Homo sapiens: one gene and its partner. The protein of the gene in region 2 purifies or fractionates together with the protein of the main gene of each other region. This does not show direct contact. Each region holds a gene or a part of one and is shown on either strand. Other genes may lie near its edges. The genes, in order: D2HGDH and RGSL1.

Region 1 (3,816 bases), on a different chromosome or scaffold from region 2:
AACAGGGAAGGCTGGGGGAGCCGGGAGCCACCACCTCACCTGAGGATGTGGGACACCTCCTCCGACGTCCGTGGCCTCAGCAGCACCTTGCTACAGCCTGTGACAGGAAGAAGATCCTATGAGACAGCGTGGGGGGAGCTGCAGATGAGGCAAGTGGTCACTCGCCCCAGAGAGCGAGTTTTTTTTTTTGGAGACGGACTCTCACTCTGTTGCCCAGGCTGAAGTGCCACGATCCTGGCTCACTGCAACCTCTCCCTCCCAGGTTCAAGCGATTCTCCTGCCTCAGCCTCCCAAGTAGCTGGGATTATAGGCACCCGCCACCACACCTGGCTAATTTTTGTATTTTTAGTAGAGACAGGGTTTCACCACATTGGCCAGGCTGGTCTCGAACTCCTGACCTCGTGATCCGCCCACTGCGGCCTCCCAAAGTGCTGGGATTACAGGCATGAGCCACCATGCCCAGCCCCCAGAGAGTGATCTTATTTGGGAAGCTGAGGAGGGAGAATCATCTGAGTCCAGGAGGTCAAGGCTGCAGTGAGCTATGATCGCAACACTGCACTCCAGCCTGGGTGACAGAGCAAGAAGCCATCTCAAAAAAACCAAAACTAGGTCCCACATGGGAGGTGGTGGGCCGGGCACTGGGCACAGTGTGCAGAAGTGGGTAAGGCTGGGCCCATGGATGAGAGTCCCACAGGCCAGGCATTGGCAGCTCCAAGGTTGCCCACCCACTTGTGGTGAGGTCGGCTCGGTCCCACGGTAACGGGATGTCTGCAGGCTTCCCTCCTGCCACGCCACCACACTTCCTTTCGTGATGTGTGTGCACCTCACAAGCAGACGCTTGAGACTATGTGGACATCCTGTTGCTCCTCAAGCTTCACCCATTAACATCTTTGATTATCCTAGACCAAATCAGTTACTAGGATGGTTGCCAACTGGTGATTTTCCTAAATCCATCTGTCCACCTACACTTCCTTTTATTTCTTTTGAAACAGGGTCTCACTCCGTCACCCAGTCTGGAGTACAGTGACACAATCACAGCTCACTGCAGCCTCAACCTCCTGAGCTCAAGCGATCCTCCTGCTTCAGCCTCCCAAGCAGCTGGGACTACAGGTGCCTGCCACCATGCCCGGCTAATTTTGATATTTTTAGTAGAAACAGGGTTTCACCATGTTCCCCAGTCTGATCTTGAACTCATGGCCTCAAGCAATCCACCCACCTCAGCCTCCCTAAGGGCTGTGGTTACAGGCATGAGTCGCCGCGCCCGGCCTCTTAGCTGACTCTGCCACGAGGGAGGGCTTTCCCTTCGCTCTCACTGACGTGTTTATGTAGCTGCTTATTCACAGTGATGTGGGCTCTCGGCTTCTCACTTTATTCACTGGGCTATAAGTCTTGGCCGCCTTATTTGCTGAATGCCTGGATGTGACCAGTGGGAGCCCTCTGAGCTAGTTCGCCGGTGTTGCTAACCACTGCTGCCCCAAGTGAGCAGGCGTCTTTCTGCCTTTGGGTTTCCTTGAGACGACTTTCCCAGGTGATGGGGGCTGCAGAGAGGCAGCAGGTGCAGTCACGGGAGCCTGTCACCTCTTCGTGGAGCTCTGAGAACCAGGCTGTGGTGTCCACCTTGCTTTTCTGATCAGAAAGCCACTTATGTCTCTTTCATCAAATGAGCAATTTTTGCAGAGGGGCCTGCTGGGCACCTGGGCCTCGGCCCGACACTTCAGTGCGGCACCTGAGGGAACCCTGGCACCTGCGCTCACTGCGTCCCTGTCCCGAGTGGGCTCAGGAGCCCCAGGACTCATGGCAAAGCTTTCGACTCGGACACACTTGTGACGCGCCTGTGGCAGGGTTCTCAACACAAACATGAGTACCCCCCAAGAATGCAGGCCAGGCCGCGTTCCAGACACAGAATGAGCACAGAATTTCCCACTCCTGTGATGTTTACCTTCTAACGGGAAAGATGAAAAGGAGGGCTCCCTCCCGGTGGTCCAGTGTTAACGATGGGAGCCCCACAAAGACGGAGGGGGCCATGGGGGCAAGGCCGCCAGAGGTGACACAGGGGCCCAGCCTGTTTTCACACCGCGAAGCTCCCACCTTCCTGCCAGTGCAGGCGTGCTCACTAAACGTCTGCAGCATCCATCCTGAGCAAATGGTCTAGATTTTTGAATATGATGCTTAATGAGTTTTCAGAAGTCTAGACAAGCTCTCTCTCCAAAAGCAAGCCACATGAAGGGATAATTCACCTAAAATTCAACAACTAAGCCTCACATCAGCAAACACCTACTGAGCAGACATTCAGGACCAAACCTGTGGACTCAAACATGAGTGAAATTCAGCCTCGCCCTCACCAAACTCGGGGCAGCAGGACGCAGAGGAAGGCGCCCTCCCACAGGCACACACAGACACCGAGGGGCGGCCCTGCAGCAGGACAGGGTGTCCATGGCCACGGATTCCCAAAAAGGTGCTGACCAGAGAGCGGGGACCCAGGGGGACAGCCAGTTCTTGCCCAGTCAGGCTCAGGCAAGGCAGAGGAGAGGAAGAGCGTGGTCACCCCTCAATCTCAGTTACAGCTTCCTCCCCGCTCCTGCATGCCCCGGGGAGGTCCCTTGCCCATGAGGGCAGCAGCGGCATAGCCCAGGGTGCTGGCCTCCGAGCAGGCTGGGAGCACGGGAACCCAAGCATTGTGCTCAAGGCTCACGCTAGGTTCCTGCCCCACTTACCCGCACGGTGTTCCTGAGGCAGTGGCTCCAAGTCCCATTTTGTAGGGCAGGCACTGAGGGTCATCTGCCTAGGGCCACCCAGACAGCAGTGCTGAGCCAGGACTGGGGCCCGACTTAGCCAAGCCCAGGGTGGGCGTCCATCCTCACCTGCCTCCGGGGACAACATTCGTGAGCCCACAGGCCCTGGGCCATGGTGTGCACTCAGGGCAGCAGCTTGAGATCGCCCCAGAGGGGTCCTTACTTCGGGAGCAGGGTGAGGGTGGGGGCCCTTCCACTCAAGAGAGCTCCTACACAGTGACCATTGGTCCAGCGATTTCCAGTGACTCCCAGCCTTTCTGCAGGGAAAGAGCTGCTTCCATTATCTGAGCCTAGACCCCAGTTCAACTTGCTAACTTTCTGAACTGTTTTAACATACGCTGCACTCCCAGATTACACGGTCTGGAAACTTTCTGAGTGTTCTTAATAATTTCAATCTTCTACAAGGGCCAACAAAAAAAAGATAAAAACAATTCCAGATCTTCCCAATGACAGCACACCCTATGTTCAGCCCCAGGACCTGGTGCCAGTTCCACAGGTTTAAATATATCATTTTGTTGTAAATTAAGAGTCAACCAATTCTCTTCTACCTCGCTTTACTATTTTAGCACACAGACACATGCCACCATACCCGGCTAATTTTTAATTTTCTGTAGAGATAGAGTTTCACCATGTTGCTCAGGCTGGTCTTGAACTCCTGGGCTCAAGCGATCTCCCACAGAACTGGGTTACAGGCGTGTAACCCAGCTGTAGTCCCAGCTACTCAGGAGGCTGAGACAGGAAAATCGCTTGACCCCAGGAAGTGGAGGTTGCAGTAAGGGGAGATCGTGCCACTGCACTCCACCCTGAGTGACAGGGCAAGACTCCATCTCAAAAAAATAAAAAAAGAGAAAACTGGGCACTGTTACCAAAAGGAAGTGCCAGCCCCAGAGGCTGAGAAGTCCCTCATTCGTGCACAGACTTGTATGCCACTGGGCAGAAGTGCAGTGGGAGGAGAGGAGCAGGCATTGTTGGCCAGGAGCCCTGCATCTTACCTAATGGGCTCCAAAAAGATACGTCTGCTTCC
Region 2 (3,916 bases):
GGCAATTTAGGTTTTTAACAACAACCCTGTCAATAAGGTAATTCTTATTACCACACATTTGGGAGACATCTGGTGCCCTTTTCTTTTGGGAACTAGAAGGTCATGAAAGGGTCAGGGATCTAACCATTATGCATTTCAAGATTTAGCCAGTGATACTGGCTTTTCATCTTTACTGTTTTTAGAGTGACCCTATTTGGTTGTTAATGGCTCCAACAGTCAGCCTTTTTGAACTGTGGGAAAGACGGTGGGGCAGCAATTAGGACTCAAGGGTAGGTGCACACAGCTTGATTGAAAACAGTCTGAAAGCATTCCATCTTAAGGAATGTGAGCATATATTACTACTGTATATGCCATTATTTTAGGAGGAGACCTTGACTCTATTTATTTTGCAAAAGAGGTGATAATTCAAGGAATAATATGATATTGTAGAATCATGCAGTGCTTCACACTGAACTCTCTTAAGATGTGTGCATGTTAAACTGACTAATTAATAAGGTGAATAAGGTAATTGATAACAGATTGAAGAAGTATGGTAAGCTACAATCTCATCTTGCAATACATAGAACATCAAGATGTAAAGCAAGAATCTCTTCTCACTAAAATCACTTTAAAATGCAGTATTTGGTCTTTATATATTCTAAAGAAAGTACAGCACTTTTTCAAATGTAAGTGATATTGTATTGACGATTCATTATTAACAATAATCCTTCCAGTTTTCAGTTTTCCCTCCACCCCCCATAGGAAAGCCTTTTGGACATTATATAAGCTTCCCTACAATCCCAAGACTTAAAAGCCCTCTCTGGGTGTGACACTGAAGAATTCTATTCTCAGTAATTCTTGGCTAAAGTTTGAAGGATTATAGGGCTTTTGGTCTCTCATCTTAATATTTACTTCCTATTAGGGAAGAACAGGAGAAATGAAGAGTTGTTTAATGAGAAAACCAAGAGCCTGAAGAGTCTTCAGAGGAAGGGAGTTCAAACCTCTTGGAAGCTGATGTTTTAATTTTAATTTTTTAAAGATGAGGTTTCACTCTGTTGCCCAAGCTGAAGTTCAGTGGTGTGATCACAGCTCACAGCAGCCTTGAATTCCTGGGCTGAAGCAATGGAGGTTGATGTTTTAAATGGGCAGAATATCCAGGAGTTACTGCTTATTAAAATTACATCAAATGTAACCGTTTACAAGACCCTTAGGAGCTGAGTTTAGCAATGCAAAAGTCACCCTAGCATGGGAGAGGTTGGAGCAGACAAGAGATCTTGGGCACAATTATAAAGAACTTGTCAAATAAAATAGTATGAACTAAAGGCTTAAGTATAGGAGGAGTCTTGTATGTCCAAGGGGATTCAGCAGATTAGGTAAGATAAAGACTTATCTTCAGATTAAGGCCTACACCAGAGGTAAGTAGATCACTGCCAGATAGAATCTGGAACCCCTTAGAGAAGGTGTCATTACGTGTTCACAATGGATATAGTTCTATTGACTGGGGGGTAATTCTGCCCCTAACAAATTACTGTGTCAGGAAGAGCATGGCAACATGAGCAGTGCTGGTGAGTCTCTGCCAGGGATGTCTCCAAGGCCTTGAGTCTCTCAAATAAGGCAAACCATTCATCTTCCCAATTGTTAATAGATCTGAGCCATTCAGGGGCACCATGGGTGACTTTTGTGTTATTCATGCCTTTGTTTTCCTTCTCTTTCTCCTTCTTCCCCTTCCTCCTACCTTCTGCCACCAGATCTTTGAGGATAGTACAGGGCCTTATTCATAAGACAACTAAGGCAAGAGGGAGGAAGTAAAATGTGGATTGGGCCACCTCTCCTCCAGAGAGAAGACTGGTATGGGGTTTGAGATTATGCAGTGATTTCATTTGTTGCCAAGTCAATATTATTATGGCGTGGAATGGGTGCTAAAAGCCTTCTCAAATTATTAGGAAGTTTGAAGGCAGAACAGGTAAGAAGGAAAAACAAGAATGGAGAAATGAGAGGATGAGGAAGGGAAGGATGTACAGAGCCTTGTCTCTATATCTCCTTAAGACTGTTTTGGCAATGGCAAGCCCTAGCATAGTCAGGCCCCTTGCCACCAGCGGTGTGTGTAGCTGTGAACAACAATCACTAGGGAATTTCTGCCAAACCCCACTTTTCTGTATTCAGATGGGCTCAGTAATATACTCATTCAACAAATCCATGTTAGACTCTATGAATGATAAACAAACAAAAGTCCAAAAGATTGAAAATCATTGGCTGGGAGCGTTGGCTCACCCTTGTAATCCTAGTACTTTGGGAGGCTGAGGCAGGTGGATTACCTGAGGTCAGGAGTTCAAGACCAGCCTGGCCAACATGGTAAAACCCCATCTCTACTGAAAATACAGAAATTAGCCAGGTGTGGTGGCATGCACTGTAATCCCAGCTACTGGAGAGGTTGAGACACAAGAATCACTTGAATCTGGGAGGCAGAGTCTGCAGTGAGTTGAGATCTTGCCACTGCATTCCAGCCTGGGTGACGGAGTGAGACTTTGGCAAAAAAAAAAAAAAAAAAAGATTGAAGATTATCTTTTGAAAGAACAATTTATTCCACATTTACAGAACTTAGACATTGTGCAAACACTTTTAGAGCCTAGAGGAAGAAAGGTGAAAAAACAAAGTCCCTCCTCTCACACGCTCAGTCTGATGAGGAAGACAGATATATCGATGGATAAAAACAGTCAGACTTGTTAATTGTAATAATGGAGGATATACGTGATGGTATAGGGAGATAGTGATGAATTCTACCATTGCAGTAGATTCTACCTTTCTTGGCTCACCAAGATTATATGTAAACCAGTTCTTAATGGATGACTATTAATTTGTGAGCTGACTGTGCTTAAGAAAACATTTGAAGCAATGGGAATATGGGAACAAAGACATGGAGGTTTCAAGTGAGAGTACCTAGCACATGCAGGAAACAGCAATGCCTTGGCTTAGCTTGCAAACAGGAGGCAGAGTGCGCAGAGAGGCAGGAAATGAGACTGGGAGGAAACTCAAAAGCCAGATGGGGTAAAGCCTCAGATACTATACTAGAGAGTTTGGACTTTACCTTCTAGGACATCAAGGAGATTTTGAAAGACTTTAACAATAATAATATCAACAGATTATGGTGGCAGTACGTGTAGGGTGGTTGGAAGGGCAAGAGGTGGGAGCTAGGGAGACCATTTAAGAAGCTGATGCAGAAGTCTAGGTGAGAGAGCATAGAGGCCTGTAATGGAAGAGTAACTTTATGGATGGAAAGGAGAAGACAGATTCCAGAGATAGGTACAAAGAGAAACCATACAGCATGATCCCCCATTGCATGTAGGGACATGGAGGGGAGAGAGAGAGAACAAGAGAGTAAGAGCAAGAGTAAGAGAGATTGAGAGTGAGAGTGAGAGTGAGAGACAGGGACAGAGACAGAGAGAAGAGCCTCAGTTTTCAGGATTAGATAATTTATTGAATGATAATTCCAGTAACTGGGACTGGGAATGTAGGAAAAGGAGCAGGTTGGGAGGCCTGGACACATTGAACATGTTGAGATGAAAGTGCCTGATGGATATGCATGTAGAGCTGGCCCATAGCTCATGTATATTTAAAACCAGAGTGAAGGAGAGAAGCCTGGACTGAAAACACAGATTTTGGAATCACCCATATGGAATAGATTAAATAAATCAAGGACTGCTTATAAAAAGAAGAGCAGAGGGCTTGGGAGGGGTACACATAAAACACACATAGCACTTGACAGCAAGAAAAAAGATGTATGTGAACAGAGGGCAAGTGCTGATACCAGCTCTGTCACTCACAATAGTGTTTATCTGGGTTTCCTTTTTTTTTTTTTTGAGACAGAGTCTCACTCTGTCACTCAGGCTGGAGTGCAGTGGTGCGATCTCGGCTCACTGCAACCTCCACCTCCTGGCTT

The links.
Region 1: the proteins of RGSL1 (region 2) and D2HGDH fractionate together in Homo sapiens (co-fractionation; one large-scale study listed by BioGRID). This does not show direct contact.

The regions. Positions count from the first base shown.
Region 1 is NC_000002.12:241,737,314-241,741,129, reverse strand, and holds part of D2HGDH (D-2-hydroxyglutarate dehydrogenase, mitochondrial isoform 1 precursor), read right to left. Parts: intron 98-3,816; coding exon 40-97; intron 1-39.
Region 2 is NC_000001.11:182,448,635-182,452,550, forward strand, and holds the start of RGSL1 (regulator of G-protein signaling protein-like), read left to right. Parts: upstream 1-1,511; 5' UTR 1,512-1,531; coding exon 1,532-1,544; intron 1,545-3,916.